Regions from separate parts of the Homo sapiens genome. Here region 1 is linked to region 2. Evidence: fine-mapped expression QTL. A gene starts in region 2. The other region holds a variant in brackets. All regions are shown on one strand. Distances are from middle to middle. Region 1 overlaps SMAP2 (small ArfGAP2). Region 2 holds the start of SMAP2 (small ArfGAP2).

Region 1 (5,381 bases), 23 kb after region 2:
AGGCGTGAGGCACCGCGCCCGGCCACTTCTAACCTTTTTAAGGAGTATTTGCGTGAACAGAATCAATGAGTTTCTTCAAATTAACTTCTGACAATAATCTAAATGGTCTCCATTTTCTGATTCACCCTTTTTTCCAATTCCAAGTTGCCATTATCCATGTAATTGGCTCTAAAGAGAGCAAGGAAATCTATCTTCTCCAGGAGTTTCAGTCATAGATTTTTAGCTGGCTCTCTTTATCATTTGCAACTGAGTTCATTCATATGCTTGTTTTCAAGAATTTTTTCCTTTAGTTCCAGAACTCTTTGCTTCCATCCTATGGTTTCTTGGGAGGACAGTTCTAAGCTTTCTTAAGATAAGTGTTTCAATCACACCATCTACCATTTCCCTCAGAAGTTGTTCTCCTCTTATGCGGTGTGTTTAGGTGTTTGGGGCGCCAATCACTAGGGATTGGAAGGATTTTGATGAATCTTCAAGTAACCATGTCTTGAAGGTTAGCCATCATCAGTTCACTCCATGAAATGAAAACTTACGGGGATCCACTTTTGCTCTTTTTTGAAGAAGTCTATTGTCCTCAAAGGAAGAGGTGGACCTGTTCAGATTTTTAAGTTTTATCTTATTCAGTGTTTGTAGCATCAAGGGACTGGCCTCTAACGGAAGCAACTGGGGGCTTCATTGGCTTATGCAATCAGTCTCATCTCACTGACTTTACAAGGTTCTTCAATACTGGCAGAAAATCTCTTGGCTAGCTCTTTCTCCCTCCTTAAAATATGTTGGCTCTTTACTATAAAAACAATCATAGCAGCACATACCAGAATCTCCTAGGGAAACCCCCAAAGACTTGGGCCTTGTCTCAGCTCTCAGACACTACCACCAAGAGCACTGCATAGCTTTCCCAGGACCAACTGGAAAGAATTCTTTTTTACGACGATGTAATTGACAATGAAAATTGTATATGTTTACAGTATACAATGTGGTGTTTTGATATATGTGTACATTGATTTTTGTGGCAGTCAGGAGGTCCTCTAGTTGGAACAGAGACTCACCACACCCAAGAGTCCCTCTGTCTGTATCCCATCCCCAAATCAGAAAAAGGCCTGTGCGTCTCTGTGGGTAGTATTCACTCTCTCAGATTCCTCTGTGAGTCAGGAACATGACAAGTGGCATCTATATACACAGTTTTAAGAGGAAGTGATGTCACTCTTGGTGTATAGAAGTGAGAAGAGGAGTAATGAGAATTAAAGACCCAGATCACAGGAGAATTTAAGCCATACTTAGAAGTTTGGAGTTCAGTTGATGGTGGGGGGTCCAGTGACATAGCTTTGAATGGGGTGATGACATTATCAGGACATATGTTGGCAGAATGTCCTTTTCAAAGCCAACAAAGTCCAAACTAGGATCTCATTCTTTCCCTCCTGAAGTCACCTGGGGAATTGAATTGATAATAATGATACAGGATGACTGATTGATAGTTCTTTATTCCCAGAAACATCACCTAAGTATACACTAGTTACCTTCCACTGCTGGGAGAGACAACAAGGAAGAGTCACAGTAAGTCCCTACCTGTTAATAATAAACCAATGGCCAGGCCCAGTGGCTCATGCCTGTAATCCCAGTACTTTGGGAGGCCAAGGTGGGAAGATCACTTGAGCCCAAGAGTTCAAAACCAGCCTGGGCAACATAGCAAGACCTCACCTCTACAAAATAATAATAATAATAATAATAAAACAGGGCAGTAAGATTAATGTGGAGCCAAATTTACCTTTCCAGAGTAGTTTAATGAATTTTTGAGATACAGTTACTATCTTTTAGAAGAGATATGTTTGAGATAATCTGGTTAAGGTATATTGACTTGTCTAAAGTCACACAGGAAATTAGTGCTGTAATTTAGATAATTCGTATCTTTAGCTGTGTAGATAAGAAGGGCCAGTTAAATAACATGAGAAAGATGAAGAATGCCTCCTTCCTTTCTCCTAGTAGACCTCAGTCTGCTTTCCTGTTGATTTCTTTGTGTTACAGGCTTTAATGTTTTTTGAGAAAAGCCATTTTAAGTTAACTGCTGAATTAGTTTTAGACATAGATTGACTAATCATTTCATTAGTGAGTACTTAGCAGTGTTCTACCTCCCTTAACCTCCTTTTTCCGGTTACCTGGTAGGAAGATAATGTTGCTTTGCTTCATCTCCATTGGTAATCACAGCAGTCTGTCTAATTGCTATGTCTGTTCTATCATTGAGCTCCTGGATTAAATTGGTTCAGCGGGCTTGTATTTTGGTTGAGTATATAAGTGGCTGCTTTCTTCTGCTAGAATCTCCAAACCTCCATCTTTATCTTTCATACTTTGATATATTATATAAGTATGGGGGGAGTAAAAAGCAGCACCAGGATATCAAAATGGTAGGAAGAGAGATTAATGGGACTCCGTATAAGGAAGGCCTCTCTAATAGTGGGTGCCGTCTAATAGACAAACCAACTACCTTTTGAAATGGTACGTAACTGACTCAGCATTGGACAAGCCAGGTGATCACCCCTAGAAGGAGGGTGCATTCAGTGAGAGGCTGGACCTAAGAGGATTTCTAAAGTCCTTTCCACCTCTGATTTTCTAATTTTAAATTTCTTGGTGTAGGATTTACCTTTATTCTCTAACCAGTCTCAGACATGTTTTAATTTTCTTTGTCTCAGACATTTTTAAGCTTAACTTATGCTCTTTTTTCAACAGTACAAATGTGGACAGTGTTTCTTTTTGACAAACGGAAACAACATTCTTGCAAGATGGCCCAGATGGAAAGGGACTTGTCTTGCAAGTGTTCTGAAAGCAGAGGTTGATTGCATAAGCCTTTATTTTGGTCTCATGGTTCCTTAAAATGTTTGTACTTACAGAAGTTCAAAGTTACTGTTTATTGTTATTTTGGAATAAGGAACTTGATGAACTCTCTTTTGTGTGGATGAAAACATAGAGGTAAACATACCTCTCAGCAGCCCTACACAATTTTTCCAAGATCCCACTGGTGTTTCTGTGTATTCTTCCTTTTCAGTGAATCAGAGAATGGAGGGATATAATGAGTGGAACTGAGGTAACTGGCACTAGATTTGTTCTTAAAACAAATACTGCTGCTTTTTTTACTTTGACTTCCAAATTTTGGGTCAGAGTTAATGACAAGTTATGTCACGTAGAATTAATCTCTTATAAAATCTGAGTTTGTTGATTTAGGTTTTTCCTTATATGTATGTTGCATTTAACCAGTTTTCAGTGCCTGGTATAGGCTCCATGAACCAAATTTGATTCCGTGTTTTAGGTTCCTCAAGACCTAACATCTTCATAGATTGTTTGTTTCATTTTAC[G/A]TTTTCAGAACCATTGAACGGTAAGCAGGAAGGGACCTAAAAATTACTGCAAATCATCTACTGTAGTAGTAGGACTGTAGTAGTAGAAAGAACTGTAGGGCTCATTGTTCACCCAATTCACCACATGGGGATCATTTCTCTACCATCCCTGAGAACTGATTACCAAACCTCTGTTTGAACACTGCACTAACTGAGATTTTACAATTTCTGGATATGCTGCATTGGTTTTTACACAACCTTAATTGTTAGAAAATTTTTCTCTAGAGTGTGCTAAAATCAACTTCTACTCCTTGGTGCCAGTTCTGCTTTTGAAGCCTTTCCAAAGTAACCTAATCCGTTTTCTGTGTTACAGCTATCCTTTAAGGCATTTGAAAACTTCTCCCTTCATTTTGCAAAACAGGAAAAATATATACATTTATGTTGCTTATTGACGAATTCATTTAACACACATTTATTGTGTACCATCTTCTGTTTGCTAGCATTGTGTCAAGTGTTTGTGATAAATGATGAAGGAACATGGTCATTGCCTTCCAGAGCTCATAGTCTATTTAGGACAAGAGAGACCTGTAAGCAACTCGAACAAGATATTAAGTATTAGAAGAACAAAGCATACCCTGGGCTATTAGCAATAGAGAAAGTTAGGGTTTATTCCATTGGAGGGCATCACAGATGAACTGGATTTTTAAGTTTGTCAAGCAGGGAATGAGGGAGAAAGCCATTCCAGGTAGAAAGAATGGTGTAGTCAAAGAGATTTGAGTGTGCTGCATATTTCACAATTATGACTTCCTCAGCATGTGTAAAGTACAAGGCTCTCAACAGACTTTATATATTATGTTAAGGAGTTTCAACTTACCCTGCAGCCAGTAAGGAGCCCTGGATGCTTACGTTGTTTTGTTTTTACGATATCTGTACTGGTTTTTCCCATTGCAAAATTAATAGAAAGCTCATTGCAAACAATTCAGAGAGGATATATAGAGAAGAAAATAGATGTTTCATTATCCCATTATCCCGATATAGTAATAATTTACATATAGTCTTCTAGATTTTTTTTCTGTGCATACGCGTACATTTATTTATTTATTTATTTTTTGACAAGGTCTCACTCTGTTCCCTAGGATGAAGTGCCATGGTGCAATCATAGCTCATTGCAGCCTTTGAATCCTTGGGCTCAAGCAGTACTCCCGCTCAGCCTCCCAAGTAGCTAGGACTACAGAGGCATATCACCACACCGAGCTCATTTATTCATATTTTAAAAAAAATGGAATTGTTTCATGTGTACTCTTTTAATACTGGATTTTTAAAATTACTATATCATGGAGATACTTTTATATGAAATAGAGGCTCCAAAATTTTTCCCCGTTAAATGGTGATACCATAATTCCTTAATGTAACCTATTAATGTTTCTAATTTTCATAAAGATGTAATAATGAACATTCTTAACGTATTTCTTTGTGTACTTGACCTGTTTTTTCCCTGATGAATTCTTACAAGTGGGGTCAAAGGATTTACTTAGTTCTTTTGTTTTTTTGAGATAGGGTGTCAATATGTTGCCCAGGCTGGCCTCAAACTCCTGGGCTCAAGTGATCCTCCAACCTCAGCCTCCTGAATAGCTGGGACTACAGACATGTGCCACTGCACCTAGAATACTTAGTTTTAATTAATCTTTAAGCAAATGTTGCTTCCCTGCTATGTTCAAGGAACCATGCTATGCCGTGAGTATATGATAGTGAATGTTACAGGTCTGGTGACAGCTCTTGTGGCACACATAGTTAAGCGGGAAAGACATCTTAAACAATCAAATAATTAGATAGTAACAAAATATGGTATGATTTAGAAAAAGTAAAGGGTGGCCAGGCACAGTGGCTCACTCCTGTAATCTCAGTGCTTTGGGAGGCCAAAGTAGGAAAATCACTTGAGGCCAGGAGTTCAAGACCAGCCTGAGCAACATAGTGAGACCCTGTCTCTTTTTTATTTCATTGATTTATTTTTATTTTTATTTTTTTCAGACAGAGCCTTGCTCTGTTGCCCAGGCTGGAGTGCAG
Region 2 (5,381 bases):
GGAGGGGGGAGGGATAGCATTGGGAGATATACCTAATGCTAGATGACGAGTTAGTGGGTGCAGCGCACCAGCATGGCACATGTATACATATGTAACTAACCTGCACAATGTGCACATGTACCCTAAAACTTAAAGTATAATAAAAAAAAAAAAAAAAGAAAAGAAAATTCTATAACTGGCCAGGCGCGGTGGCTCATGCCAGTAATCCTAGTACTTTGGGAGGCTGAGGTGGGCGGGTCACGAGGTCAGGAGATTGAGACCATCCTGGCTAACAGGGTGAAACCCTGCCTCTATTAAAATACAAAAAATTAGCCAGGAGTGGTGGCACGTGCCTGTAGTCCTAGCTACTTGGGAGGCTGAGGCAGGAGAATTGCTTGAACCTGGGAGGCGGAGGTTGCAGTGAGCCGAGATCGCACCACTGCACTCCAGCCTGGCGACAGAGCGAGACTCGGTCTCAAAAAAAAAAATTTTATAACTAATGTGGAAACAGTTTTATGATAAGATAACATGTGCATGATGGAACAGAGTGAACATTTTTGCAAGACTAGTCAAAGCAAAATTCAAGACTTCAAAAAAAAAAATGTGTACTTGGGAGGAGCAGTTTGCTTTGTTTATATCCTCAGACCCTGGGCTATGCACTCACTTTACTCTGCTATTAGTAATGATAATAAAAAGAGCTAATACTTGATGTATCTGCTAGGATAGGCTAGCTTATACAGTGGTAAACAAACAAAACTCAATGGCAACACAATGCTTATTTCTTGCTTATGCTAAGTTATCCTCTATGGGCTGGCAGAGAGCTCTTGTTTATCAGCTACACAGAAATCCAGGCTAATAGAGCAACCAACATCTTCAGCATCAATAGTTGCCATGCCAGAGGGAAAGAGAAGCACAAGAGGCTCAAAGCAACAAATAAATGCTTCAGAGACAAAGTAATCCATCCTTTCTGCTCAAACTCATTGGTCTTTCCCAATCACTTGAAGGCCAGGAAATAAAATCCTACCATGTGCTCAGAAGGCAAAACGCCAGAAATATTTAGTGAAGAGCGCTAATTGTCTATCATTCACTATCTACCAAGGGCTGTTCTAATTATATTACAGGCATTATCTCAGCTAAGCCTCATAATAATCTTGTGAAATAGGTACTATTAATGTTATCATCATTCCCATTCTATAGATGAAATAACTGAGGCACCAAGAGGCTAAGTAACCTGCTCAAAGTCACACAGATAATAGGTGGTAAAAGCTGAAGATTTAAACTTAAGCATTCTTGCCCCAGAGTCTGTGTGCTTAACCACAAAGCCATGAGATCTCTCACTAGGTGGGAACAATTTGAGAAACACTGCCATAGGCAATGGAGAGCCACTAAAGGATTTTTTAAGCAGGAAGTGTGAGTCCATCAGAATTGGCATTTAAAAGCTCCCTCTAGAGAGCACGGTGAAGGATTAATTTAACCAGATTTAGACTAAGGCAGGAAGGCTATTTGCAGAGTGAGGAGATGAAGATGGGGAGGGCTTGAACTAAGGTACAATCACCACTCACCGCAATTAACTGGGTTTTGTTGTTGTTGTTGTTGTTTGAGACAGGGTAACGGGGTACATTGGGGGTTGGAGGGGTGGTTCTTACTGTGTTGCCCAGGCTGGATTCCAACTCCTGGGCTCAAGTGATGCTCTGGCTCTGGCATCCTGAGTAGCTAGGACTACAGGTATGTGCCACCACACCCAGTAACTAGTTAATCTTGACTGTCTATTTCAACTGAAAAATGGTTATGGTAATACCTACTTGGATGGGTTTTCTGAGGAAAAACACCCCAATGAACTTGTGTGTTTTTAAAAGTCAAGTCCCCTAGGCATGGCTAGAAGGGAAGAGGCTTAGCCAGAAAATTTAATTGTTGTGATTAATAAAGTAATAGAAATGTTTAGTTTTCCTCTGATGAGATGAAAGCTTTGAGGGGATCCTGGTCTTGGGAGAAAGTAAAGAAATGGAGGAGAGGGTTTCACCAGAGTTTAGATAACTCTTAGCATCTGCTTACTATCTTCCCTGATTAATTATTTCCATGGCAGCCAGAGTGACCTTTTAAAACCACAAATCGGATCATGCTGTTTCCCTCTCCCCTAGTACAGTGCCTGATACTTAGAAATTTCTCAGTAACATCGTGCTCAGTGAATGAATGAATGAATGAGTGAATGAAAACACAAGCCAGATGGCAGGTGGATCCCTAAGGAAAAGGACAGCCAATGAGAAATTATCTGTAGCAACGGTGGCTTTGGATGATGATGTTTAATAATCATTTTTAAGGAGTTGCCTGTTGTGTGCTATGCTTTAATCACTGTCCCCCACCCTTCCCAAATAACGTTCAGTAAAAGTCTGCCACAAAAAACTCGCTGTTTTGTGAGAATTTAAGAAATGGAAGAAGAAACAAACTGTCTGGGCACCAGGCCAAACAATATCCAAAAAGGCAGGAGTCACAGAGGAGAGCTAATGAGTATTAGTGGGAGCAGGTATTCCAAGTGAGAGGTGACCAGAGTCCTCTGAAAATGTGGGGAGGGGGTGACGTTCCTATATCCTGGGTTAGGGGCTTGGACTCTTATATTTGGCTGTTGGAAAAAACAAGCTGGAGGACTTTGGGGTATCAACAACCCTCAGGTTACATAAGGATGATCATAGGGTCGTTGTGAGGATTATGTTGGGATAGTTCATGCAAAGCGCTTAACACAGTGCCTAGCGCATAGTAAGAGCTCAGTAAATGTTAGTTGTTGTCTTCCTTCACTTTCTTCCATTCCCTCCACTCCCTTTCTACCAGGCTCCATTCATTCTCTTCCAAGGACACGCAGGGGGCGTGCCCACCCCTTCCCTCCGCCCCCACCCAAGGCCCGCCCCCCGCTTCTCCACGGATTGGTTCCCGAGAGGCGGAGCTGAAGGAAGAGCCCAGTGCGGCGCGGTGGGGGCGGGGCGCATGCGCGAGCTGGGCAGGGTGGAGGTGGGGAGGAAGAGCTGCCGGAAGTAGGCGGTGGAGGTGGTAGCGGAGCTGACGGCAGCTGCCAGGGAAACCGAGGCGCGGGACGCAAGGCCAGCAGACAGGCCGGCCAGAGGGTCATCTGCGTCCGGCACCCAGGAGGCTCGTGGTCCGCCTTTGCCTGGGCTGAGGGTCTCTGGCCCCGCAGCCTCTCTTGGAGGCGGGCCTGTCCCTAAGCCCGCCAAGGGGCGCCGCGCCGAGGGGCTGCGGAGTGGGGGACGGACGCCCCCGACCCGGGAAGGGGCGTCCGGCGGGGCCGGAGGAGAGGGCTCTCCCCGCTCAGGAGGTGCCCCTGGGCGGGGGACCGGGAGTCCTCAACCCCGGACTGAGGCAGGGGTCTCTGGGGGCGAGGAGGGCGCGTCGCCCTCTGCCCCCGCCGGCACCCTGGCCATGACAGGCAAGTCGGTGAAGGACGTGGATCGGTACCAGGCTGTCCTGGCCAACCTGCTGCTGGAGGAGGATAACAAGTTTTGTGCAGATTGCCAGTCTAAAGGTAGCGCATCCCACCTGGCGGGCCAGGGGTCCAGCCGCGCCGGGGTGGTGGGGGTGGGCTGCGTGAAGAGGCGGTTTCTGAAGCTTAGGCCGCCCAACTCGGCTTATAAGTGGTAACGCGTGCTGCGCTTGCAGTGAGCCTACTGGGCTTTCTGCAGCTGGGGGATTGGTATGGGTAGAGCTTGCGAGGGCGAGTCTGTGTGTGTCGGGGAGGGTGGAGGTGATGGTGCGGGTGGAAGTTGCCTGGCGTGTTCAGGTGAGAATGTCTGTATTTGAGGGCTCTGAATGAGTTCTGGGCCGGCTGTCCAGAGAGAGCTCCCAGCATGTCACTTGCAAAGCTGGGGATGAACTGCATTGCGTGCGTGCGTGCGTGCGTGTGTGTGTGTGTGTGTGTGTGTGTGTGAGAGAGAGAGAGAGAGAATGACGAGGAGGAGGAGGAGGGAAGTGAGATGGCGGAAAGGAAAACTGCTTAAATGATTTTTAAAGGTGGTGATTTTTGCTTCCTGCTATTTGGTTAGCAACTCCTGTCATTTTGCAGCCTTGCTAAGATCTGACAAGAGTGCTTAGGTGACTTTATTCTTCTGGATGTGTGCAGTGGGAAACTGCCTTATGCAGTGACACAGTGCGGATTTCTAGGCAGTGTAGCCCTGGCTTGTAGAGTGCGTTGGAGGCCTATGTATGAGTGGTGGCAGAAACTAGCCGATTATGCCTGTAGTGCAGGATCCGTTTAATCAGTGGAGAGAGAAAGATGAATTCGATGAATTCATTGCTTCCATGGCGATTACACTTCTAAAGGTGAAATATGATCATTGTAAATTGGCAGAACCATTTAGTCTTTGTTTTCTGTGCCCTAGAAGATTCATGATTTGATACAATTAAAAGTCAGTACAATAGGAAATCTTGGTTATTAGTGAAATGTTGGCACTTGACATTTATACAAGCTTCTATGAATCTTTTTTTCCTGTATTTTCTAATTCTTTTGGCATATAATTGGAGGATTGGGAAAATTATTTTCCCTTTGGTTGGGTCGAAATGGATAGTTATATTTTGGGGGCGACAATTTACTTTTGTTCATAATGCAGTGGATTTGCCATGGTTGTTTGCCGTACAGCGTAGTGGGCATATACTATAAAACAAAGATTCAGTTATATTCGTATTTATCTATTTTGAGAAAGGAAGGACATATTTAATTGATGCTTTCACTTAATTACCTTTTATTTTTGAAGAATAAGGTTATAAAAGGAGAACAGGGGAGGGATACATAGACACCTAGTAATGTATTTTAGTGACCTCTACCAACAGATAAATGGAATGTGCCATTAGGAAAACAAATTCCTAGACTTCTTTCCTGAATTTTTGCATTAGCAATAATTCATTTTAAAAAGTATTTTAGAATCAATTTATGTTGAGTAGGTTAGCTTCTTGATTCTTGTTACATCTTCTGTTAGGTCTATTGGAAGATTTGGTTTATTTTAGGAGTGTATCTTGGCTTTATTCAAATTCCCTTATGTCCTCATTTGACAGATCTTGAGTCACAGTGAAGCAACCCACTGGAGTGAGCATTGCTGCATTTGGAGAGTCAGATGCCATTTTGGTGACTAGAACCCCCCCCCCCATTTCTCATATTACCCTTATACTTACTCATATTCCAATAAAATACAGCACATGGAAGAGAGAGGCTGATTCACTACTTCTTCCTCCAAATTTCCATTGCTTTTTATTTATTTTATTTTTTATTTTTATTTTTTGAGACAGTTTCGCTTTGTCGCCCAGGCTGGAGTGCAATGGTGCAATCTCGGCTCACTGCAACCTCTGCCTCCCGGGTTCAAGTGATTCTCCTGCCTCAGCCTCCCGAGTACCTGGGATTACAGGCG

What was found. PIP is the estimated chance that this variant, and not a neighbour inherited with it, causes the effect.
Region 1: its variant is fine-mapped to the expression of SMAP2 in fibroblasts (GTEx, PIP 0.94).

Annotation. Positions count from the first base shown.
Region 1 is chr1:40,393,821-40,399,201 of GRCh38, forward strand. The region is part of intron 1 of SMAP2 (small ArfGAP2); the gene reads left to right. Among named protein-coding and RNA genes, the nearest start is that of SMAP2, 23 kb to the left of the region's middle. The variant G/A (reference allele first, on the strand shown) is at 3,339.
Region 2 is chr1:40,370,716-40,376,096 of GRCh38, forward strand. SMAP2 (small ArfGAP2) reads left to right here and starts at 3,012. Exons shown (of 10, transcript NM_022733.3): 1 at 3,012-3,508. The coding sequence starts at 3,406. RefSeq lists silencers at 2,755-3,074, 3,145-3,284 and an enhancer at 3,270-3,769.